2 linked regions of the Homo sapiens genome follow. The protein of the gene in region 2 purifies or fractionates together with the protein of the main gene of each other region. This does not show direct contact. Each region holds a gene or a part of one and is shown on either strand. Other genes may lie near its edges.

Evidence for each region.
Region 1: the proteins of SLC41A3 (region 2) and RANGAP1 purify together in Homo sapiens (affinity purification with mass spectrometry; one large-scale study listed by BioGRID and IntAct). This does not show direct contact.

Annotation. Positions count from the first base shown.
Region 1 is NC_000022.11:41,248,188-41,251,687, reverse strand, and holds part of RANGAP1 (ran GTPase-activating protein 1), read left to right. Parts: intron 1-578; coding exon 579-681; intron 682-1,870; coding exon 1,871-1,959; intron 1,960-2,236; coding exon 2,237-2,358; intron 2,359-3,500. UniProt on the Homo sapiens protein: GTPase activator for RAN. Converts cytoplasmic GTP-bound RAN to GDP-bound RAN, which is essential for RAN-mediated nuclear import and export. Mediates dissociation of cargo from nuclear export complexes containing XPO1, RAN and RANBP2 after nuclear export.
Region 2 is NC_000003.12:126,004,659-126,009,446, forward strand, and holds the end of SLC41A3 (solute carrier family 41 member 3), read right to left. Parts: intron 4,223-4,788; coding exon 4,074-4,222; intron 2,568-4,073; coding exon 2,358-2,567; 3' UTR 1,907-2,357; coding exon of another isoform or gene 1,749-1,906; 3' UTR 1,699-1,748; downstream 1-1,698. UniProt on the Homo sapiens protein: Na(+)/Mg(2+) ion exchanger that acts as a predominant Mg(2+) efflux system at the mitochondrial inner membrane.

The sequences.
Region 1 (3,500 bases), on a different chromosome or scaffold from region 2:
CAAGTTCAATTACAAGATGGGGACCACTGGATCCCTGAAATGATTTTTTTTTTTTTTTTTCTGAGACAATGTTTTGCTTTGTGACTCCGGCTGGAGTGCAGTGGTGCAATCATGGCTCAGTGCAACCTCGACCTCCTGGGCTCAAGCAGTCCTCCTGCCTCAGCCTCCCAAGTAGCTGAGACTATAGGCACACACCACCAACCTTGGCTAATTTTTTTCCTTTTTGTTGACATGGGGTCTTGCTATGTTGCCTAGGCTGGTCTCAGACTTTTCGCCTCAAGCCATCCTCCCACCTCAGCCTCCCAAAGTGCTGGGGTTACAGGCATGAGCCGCCACACCCGGCTGGGATGATTTTTCATCCTTGTTCATTCACTCATTCATTCCCTCTCTATGCTGCATATGTGCTTGCTGCAGGCCAAATCCAAGCCAGACTCTGAAGGGACAGCATGGGGTAAGGCAGGACCTGTTCTTGCCCGCCAGGGGCCTTTGTACTGCCCAGGCCTCTCCTAGCTAGCGTCAGAGCCCAGGTACCTCTCCACCACGTGCCACAGGCCAACCATTGTCTCTTTTGTCCTCAGACTGACACGTCTGACCCCGAGAAGGTGGTCTCTGCCTTCCTAAAGGTGTCATCTGTGTTCAAGGACGAAGCTACTGTGAGGATGGCAGTGCAGGATGCAGTAGGTAATGTGGGCTGGGTGAGACCTGGGTGCCCTCTGTCCCTTGATGCTCGTGGGCCCCAGGTATCCTTCGTGGTTGCCGTAACTCGTCAGCCCCAGCGCTCTCATGGGAACTGCTCTTTGGCCACCTGAGTTTTTCCTCCGTCAGGGTCCTGCCGTGGAGCCAGCTGGCTGCTCTTCTCCCTGTTTTTCACCACTGAGAAACTGAGGCCTTTCCCAAATCCACACAGCCATGTACAGTTAGAACCCATAGCCCGCTCTAGGAAGTCCAGATAGTCACATCTGCAAGCCCAATGGACGCAGGTCTATCGGGAGGAGGGATGGTGAGAGCCAAGCCCTTGTCCACACCTTGGAGCTTCTGTGCTCACGTCCACTCTACCTGGAGGTTCCTTGCACAGAGGACACCTTTCCCCATAACATTATGGGGGCTTCCTTGGAGCACCAGCCCATATCCCTCCAGCCCTATCACAACCCTCTCCCCACCCTGTCTGTTTCCTCCATTCCAGCACCTGTCACCTTCCACCCTGTTTCCATGTGCTTGACTGAGCCTCCACATCTAACGAAACCTGAGCCAGTTCCGGTTAGGCAGAGGGGAGGAAGGGCCCTGAGGCGAGGGGGACGGTTCCTGGAAAAGATAGAAAGGGGTGGAAGGACATGTGGTGCCTCTTCCCGGCGTGGCGTCGAAGCGGGGAGGGCGGCTCAGTGGGAAATGAGGCTCGGAAGGAGGTGGGGGCCAGACACAAGCCTGCTCCCTGAGGGCCCGCCTGTGGGCATTTTTGGGAACAAGTTGCCCTAGTTCTGTTTCCCAGGAAGCCTAGCACAGTCCCTGCACATCCCCTCACCCTGCCAAAATAACCTGAATCCTCCCCAGTGGTAGCCTGCCTCAGGAAATCTCCATTCCCACGGTGTGAGGTGGGCACAGTGGGTGTCATCCCCATGCCCATTTTATACCTGAGGCCAGGATGGGCAAGGGCCAGAGTGTCACAGCTGGCAGATGGACTGAGCCCATCCCCTGATGCCAACTGCCACTCCCTCTGGTTCCTGTGTCTCTGCCGTCCCTCTCGTGTTCGCCTCTTCGTCAGGGCGAGGAGGCAGGCGAGCCTGTGTCTGCGCGGTGTTGGGGGAACCCTGGGTGCCTTGGCCCAGCCCTCTGCCATAGCCAGCAGCCTGCCCCTGCTGCTTCTGCCCTACAGATGCCCTGATGCAGAAGGCTTTCAACTCCTCGTCCTTCAACTCCAACACCTTCCTCACCAGGCTGCTCGTGCACATGGGTCTGCTCAAGGTGAGGCCGGAAGGAACAGCAGGCCCGGGAGGGAGGTGGGTGGGGTCTGCACAGAAGCTGCCCCAGCCATGCCCGCCAACCTCCCTCACCTCGAGTCCTGAGCCGGCTCGCCCACGGGGCCCCGAGGCCTGGGTCTGCCCCAGCAGCCTTGGTCTTCACGATGAGATTCCGGCTAGACTCAGTTGTGGGCACTATCAGCAGAGTCTGGATGGTGGAGTCCAGGGGCCCCCCCAGGTGACTTTGAAGCTCACCCCGCTTTTCGCTGTGTTCCTCTCAGAGTGAAGACAAGGTCAAGGCCATTGCCAACCTGTACGGCCCCCTGATGGCGCTGAACCACATGGTGCAGCAGGACTATTTCCCCAAGGCCCTTGCACCCCTGCTGCTGGCGTTCGTGACCAAGTGAGTGTGGCCTTGTCCTTCTGCCGGTGCCTGCCCTCTCGGGCTTCTCTGGCCAGGTCTGAAGGCGCCCGGTTCCGGGAGGCCCAGCCCCAGCCCAGCCAGCCTGCTGGCCCCACTCAGGTGCATGAGAGGCCCTCATGCCTCCTGGGCTCTCAGCATCTGCATTGGAGTCTCACCACCCTTGGGAGGCCCACTCCCCTCTGCCCAGCTGAGGACAGTGGGGCTCAGGGACAGTGAGAGAGGAGACATGCGGCGCCCCCATTGTGCAGATGAGGAGCACTGGGTTGGTTAAGGAGTTTCCCTTGGTCACACGCTAGCAAGAGGCTGGGCCAGTGTCCAGACCCATGTCTGCTGAGCGAGGTGCTGCGGTTGGTGACATCTCCGGAGTGGCTTTTTGTCCACATTCACAGCAGCGCAGGCCAAAGGGGCCTGGTCACACCAGGCTCTGCAGCCCCGGGCCCTCTCCTGGGGACACACATTGCCACGGGAGCTGCCAAATGCCCAGCAATGTGTGAACCTTGGCCTTGTTCTGGAGGGTCCTGGGGTGTCCCGGGGCATTGATGGGGTGATGGGCACAGTCAAGTAAGAGAGGCAAGGCCCCACCAGGGAGGGGTCGGGAGGCTTGCCCTCTGAAGGCCCTGTGTGGCCCCTGGCCAACCTGTGGCCTTCATCAGGCCTCAGTCTCCCCATTTGTCCAACCGGGGGGTTAGGTGAGATTGTCTCCAAGCGCCCTGACCAGCCACACTTCCAGTCAGTCGGCGCCATCCGGGGACATGGGGCAGGCAGAGGAGCAAGGAAGTCCCTTTGCTGGGGGAGCCCAGAGCCCACCAGCTGAGGCAGGATACTTGGTGCATGTGGGGAGGCGGGGCTGGCGGAGCGTGAGCGGCCCCCGCTGGCCTCCAGCACCCAGCTGGTGCCGCGGCAGCCCTGTCCACTCCAGTGTCTGCATGGCGCCGCCTCCTTAGCCAGGCCTTACCTTCTGGCCGCATTTCCCCCACACCAGACCACCCCTTGGGCTGCAGCTGGACTGGCCTTGGTGAATGGCAGATCTCACTGTTCCCCTCCTCTGCCAGGTGCTAGGTAGAGCCTCACTGTGAATCTCATGGCTGGCCACAGCCTCACCCCGACCCCACCCCACCCCA
Region 2 (4,788 bases):
TCTGCGGTACCTGGTGTCTCCAAGCTTCTGGGCACCACCATGTTCCCCTTGTCCAGATGTGGGTAACTGCAGTGGAAGCTGCTTGTGGTACATCTGATCCAGTTGCAGCCTTGCATGGAGCCGGCGCCTGTGCCAGTGCCTGGAGCTGCCTGCCCTGCCACAGCAGCTGGGGTGCCTGGCTGTGTGCAGTGGTTGGACCTCATGCTCACTCGCTCACATACCCCTCATTACTCCATGCCTGGCTCACCCTTGGCAGGTGTGGGATCCCAGGCTGGTAGCGTGAGCTGAGCGCAGCCTGCCAGGCCGAGTGGACAGAACAAGCCCAGTGGGCCTGAGCAAAACTCAGGCAAAGGCACCACTGGCCACAGAGGTTTCTGGCTGGAAAAGCAACACCTCTAGGATCTTGTAACACGGTGTTGGTCAAACCTCTTTGGCACACACATCGCTTGGGTCTGAGCCCAAATGTCTGTTCAAATCAGTCCACCACTCACTAGCCATAGGGCTTTGGTAACGTTAAGAAGCCTCACAATGCTTCAGTCATCTACAAATGGGAGTGGTATGTACTGCATCACTTAATGTGAGGTTATCAGAGTTTACACGTCAAATGTTTAGGATACAACCAGACACACAGAAGATGCTTGATAGATCTTAGCTCTCATTACATGCTTCAGTAGCATCACATGCTTGTCTTTTGCAAGACTTATCAGAGCTGGACTTTCAATACTTGTGTGATGTTGACTATCTCTCCTAGTAGGGACTTGAACCAGGGATGATGAGTGATTTGCCCACAAGTGTGTCCCCAGTATCTAGCATGGAGCTTGGCATATAGTTGTGCTGAATATTCTCCAGTTGCCTCTCCAGATCTATCCCCAGCCTCCCCTGGCTCTGTGCCCCAGGAGGCTGAAACCTCTGTGGATCGTCAAGCGGCTCCCCAGTCATTGAACTTCTGGTTGGGTTTGGCCAATGGGAGACACTGGCAGGAGATAATAGGGTGGACAGAGAATGAGATTGGGATATTTATTTCCCTGGCTTTCTCTGCCAGGCCACAAGCTGATGTAGCTGTGTCTCTTTCTTAGAGATCCCCATGCATCTCAGGAAACCACAATCCCAACTATTCTCCAGGACAGGTGAATGTCTGGTAGTGCCTGGCCCCAGGATGCTTCACCCCTTCTTCTGGTCCCCATGCACCTATAAACTGTGCCTTCCTTAAAGTCTGCTCAATTATTCCAGTTAATGTACCATGTCTTTCCTTCTAGAACATTAAAACAAGAGGTTCTATATCAACATTTGTTGAATACATGAATAGATGTCTGTTTTACCACATGAAGATAATAATCTTCAAGTCCAAGCATGGCTACAGTTGTCCTGATGAGTTAATAAGAGACAGGAAATGATCATACATTTTTTAAAGATGATGTTCTCGAGTAGTAGTTCTCAAACGTGGGTGTGTATGAGAAACCTGGAGGGCTTGTGGAACCCATATAGCTGGCTCTACTCCCAAGAAATGCTGATTTGGCTAGTCAGGCCAGGGGGTGAGGGATAATAATTTGCACTTCTAACAAGTTTCCTGGTGACACTGACGTTTCTAGGCTGAAGGCCACTTTGAGAAACACTGCACTAGAGAAATGCCAGATGCTTTTGTTATTTATAGACCCCAAGCCTCAGGGTTGCATTAACTATCTTTAAAGACATAAAGGGTCAAGTACAATATAATCTGTTTTATTTTACACTTCTCTGATTATTGAAATCTAAATAGAGGTTTTTGCTAACAAACAAAAAGGAAAATAAAAAGACAGCAAGGACACGATTAAATGTTGAGTGCAGATGAAGGGTTGTATGAGGCCCCATCCTGGGGAGGCTGTACACCTTCTTGGCACAGCAGCAGTGTGGCCCACGGAGCTTGAACCTGGTGAAGACAGCAAGTAAGCCACAGCTCAAGAGTTCTGAGGCTTGGGAACAGAAAAGAGCTCCTTCCTGCTCCACCCCAATCTGGGTTGCATGGGCATGGAAAAGAGCAAACACACCCTGCAAAGCATACTGGACATGCCTCTTCTTTACCTTCTCAGGCCAGAACACCCTCCTCTCCACAAACGTGTGCACACTTGCACGCTCATTAAGCATGTGCACACATCATATTCACACACTCAAGCCATGCTCTTGATTTCAGGGCTCTATTGCAGGCTCAGGTATCAACCCCAGAGCCGAGGTGTGTGAGAGCTACCTTAGCAGACTCACAAAAGGCTACTGCAGAGGCAGGGGTCAACCATCCCAAGGACCTGGCAAGGGAGAAACTGAATTCTGTATCCCACTGATGTGAGAGGAAATTCTAATGAGCAAATGGGACCAGCGGGGCCCAGTTAGGGAGGTCCAGATGCCAGTTCTGAGATGCCACCCAGCTCTGCCTTGCTCTTCAGTAGCCAGTCAGTGAAAAAGCAGAGTGCCAGGAGGCCAGTACCGAGCAGGTCCCCCAGCCCTGTAAGGTAGGGGATGCAGTGGTTGTCAGGATCCAGGGCCTGGTGCCAAGTCAGCCGAACCATCACTTCTGCGAGGTACAGCAGGATTGTCACCTGTCAGAAGGGCAAAGAGACACAAAAGAAGACCAAGTCAGAAAGTCAAGTACAGGCAGGAAGCACTAGCTGAGGCTCAAGGAGAGATACCAAGGTGGACAGGTCAACCCCAGCCAGCCTCCTTCATCCAGCTTCTCTTGGGGTCTGAAGCCCAGCTCCGAGCTCAAGCAGTGGCTAGAGAGGTGACCCTCATCTGTACTTACCTAGCCTCCCTCTAGTGGGCCCAGCTTCTGGCACCCTGAAGGGCCAATCAGACCCACTGCCACTCACCAGCTGGGGCTCTCTCTGCTGCGATAGGCTCTACTCATGGGACTTTGCCGAGATGTCCATTTGGGTTTGCCTGAGCCCTTCTCCCCTGGAGGTTAGGACAGTCAGCCCTTCCTGAAGGTGCCATGGGGTAGTCCACACAAGCCTGCTCAGGTCTCATGGCTCCTCAATCCCTTGTCCAGGCTAACCCCAGCTCCTTCCTTCTCCCCAACTGGAGTCATAAGCTGCTGCTGCTCAGGACAACTTCTGGGATTTCCCTAATCCTACCCTTTAGGGTCAGGAACATACCACAATTACAAATGCCATAAACTCTGGGAGATGAGAAAGTGCCAGTACCAGCACCACACCCATAGAATTGCCCTCCAGCGCCCACGGTGCTCCCTGCAAAGGCCCCAGACCCACTGGGGACCATCAGCCCGCTGCAGTCTAGGCAGTGTGCTGAATACCTGCCCAACACAGGCACCAGCTTAATCTCCTTCACCATGCTTACTGCTGTCCAGCCCTGATCAATGTCTACGCATGCCTTGCAGCAGCAGACCCTGCAGGGGTCTGGCCCTGCCCACCCACCGTTGGGGAGGCAGTGGATAGCTGGACCACTCCTCAGCCTGTTCCGTGGGAACATGCTTCATCCTCAGGGCTGCTCCTCTTATCCTGTGATGATGAATGTGCTGCGCGCAGTGTGTGGCATGTTGTGTGCCGTGTCTAGCATGCAGTACATAATGTGACGAGTGATGTGCAAGATGACATGTGTAGTATGCAGTGCAGTACGTAGCGTAAGCTGTATAGCATGTAGCATGCAGCACACACTCTGTAGCATGCATGTGGCATGCACTGTGACATGCAGTGTGTAGTGTGTGTGGTGTGCACTGTGTGGTGTGGAGTGTGTGGTGTGAAGTGTGTGGTGTGGAGTGTGTGGGTTGCACTGTGTTGTGGAGTGTGTGGTGTGAAGTGTGTGGTGTGGAGTGTGTGGGGTACAGTGTGTGGTGTGGAGTTTGTGGTGTGGTGTGGAGTGTGTGGGATGCGCTGTGTGGTGTGGAGTGTGTGGCATGTAGCATGTGGTGTGCAGTGTGGAATGGCCTCTGTATTTGACAAGTTGACTCAACTCCTGGAAGATAAGGACTGTGCCCCACACGTCCAGCCACCCCCACCCGCCTCCCTCAGCCTCTCACTCAGACAAGAGATCAAGCCTGCTGGCTGACTACACAGCTGCGCACCTCTAATTGCTGCAGCCAGGCTTACCTGGATCAGGCCTGCCAGCAGGTAGAGCACCACAAAGGTCTGGCTGTTTATGACTGACTGACCCTCCACCAGGTAGATGATGTAGAAGAAAATCAGATGGCCTGGGACCACCAGCAAGAGCAGGACTCGAGCTGACATGGAATTGATTTCTGAAAGAAACAGAACCAAGAAGGTCATGTGACCTGAAGCGAGGCCACTTTGGCATGTGACAGTCCTCAGTGAGGCATCCACACTCACTCATCCATTTATTCCCAAGTGTTCACTGGACACCTACTCTGTGGCAAGCATATTCTGGCAGATGGGGATACAGTCTTTCCCCTTCCCTCGTGGAGCTGATATTTTAGAGAAGAGAAACAAGAATCAAGTAAGCAGAAATAAAAAGAAGCAAGAAAGGCTATTTCAAACTGTGACAAGTACTTTAAAGAAAATAAAGGTAAAAAGAAGGGCAAAAAGCAGGAAGTGTTTATCAGTGGGGATGAGCTCCTGCAGATGACATTTCAGCTGGGATTTGAATTTGGGGGAGAGGAGTTTGAGCAGAGAAAAGAGAACATACAAGGGGCTTAAGGAGGAAAAGAGCTTTGGGTATGGTGCTTCACTCAGTGCAGCGCTGGTGATCTGGGGAGGGCAGTCGGCTCAAAAGGGGACCTCGGGCAGCCCCTTCTTCATAGCAGCCTCTGTGGCCCTGTCAGCATACCTGCAATGTGCCAGTGAGCCC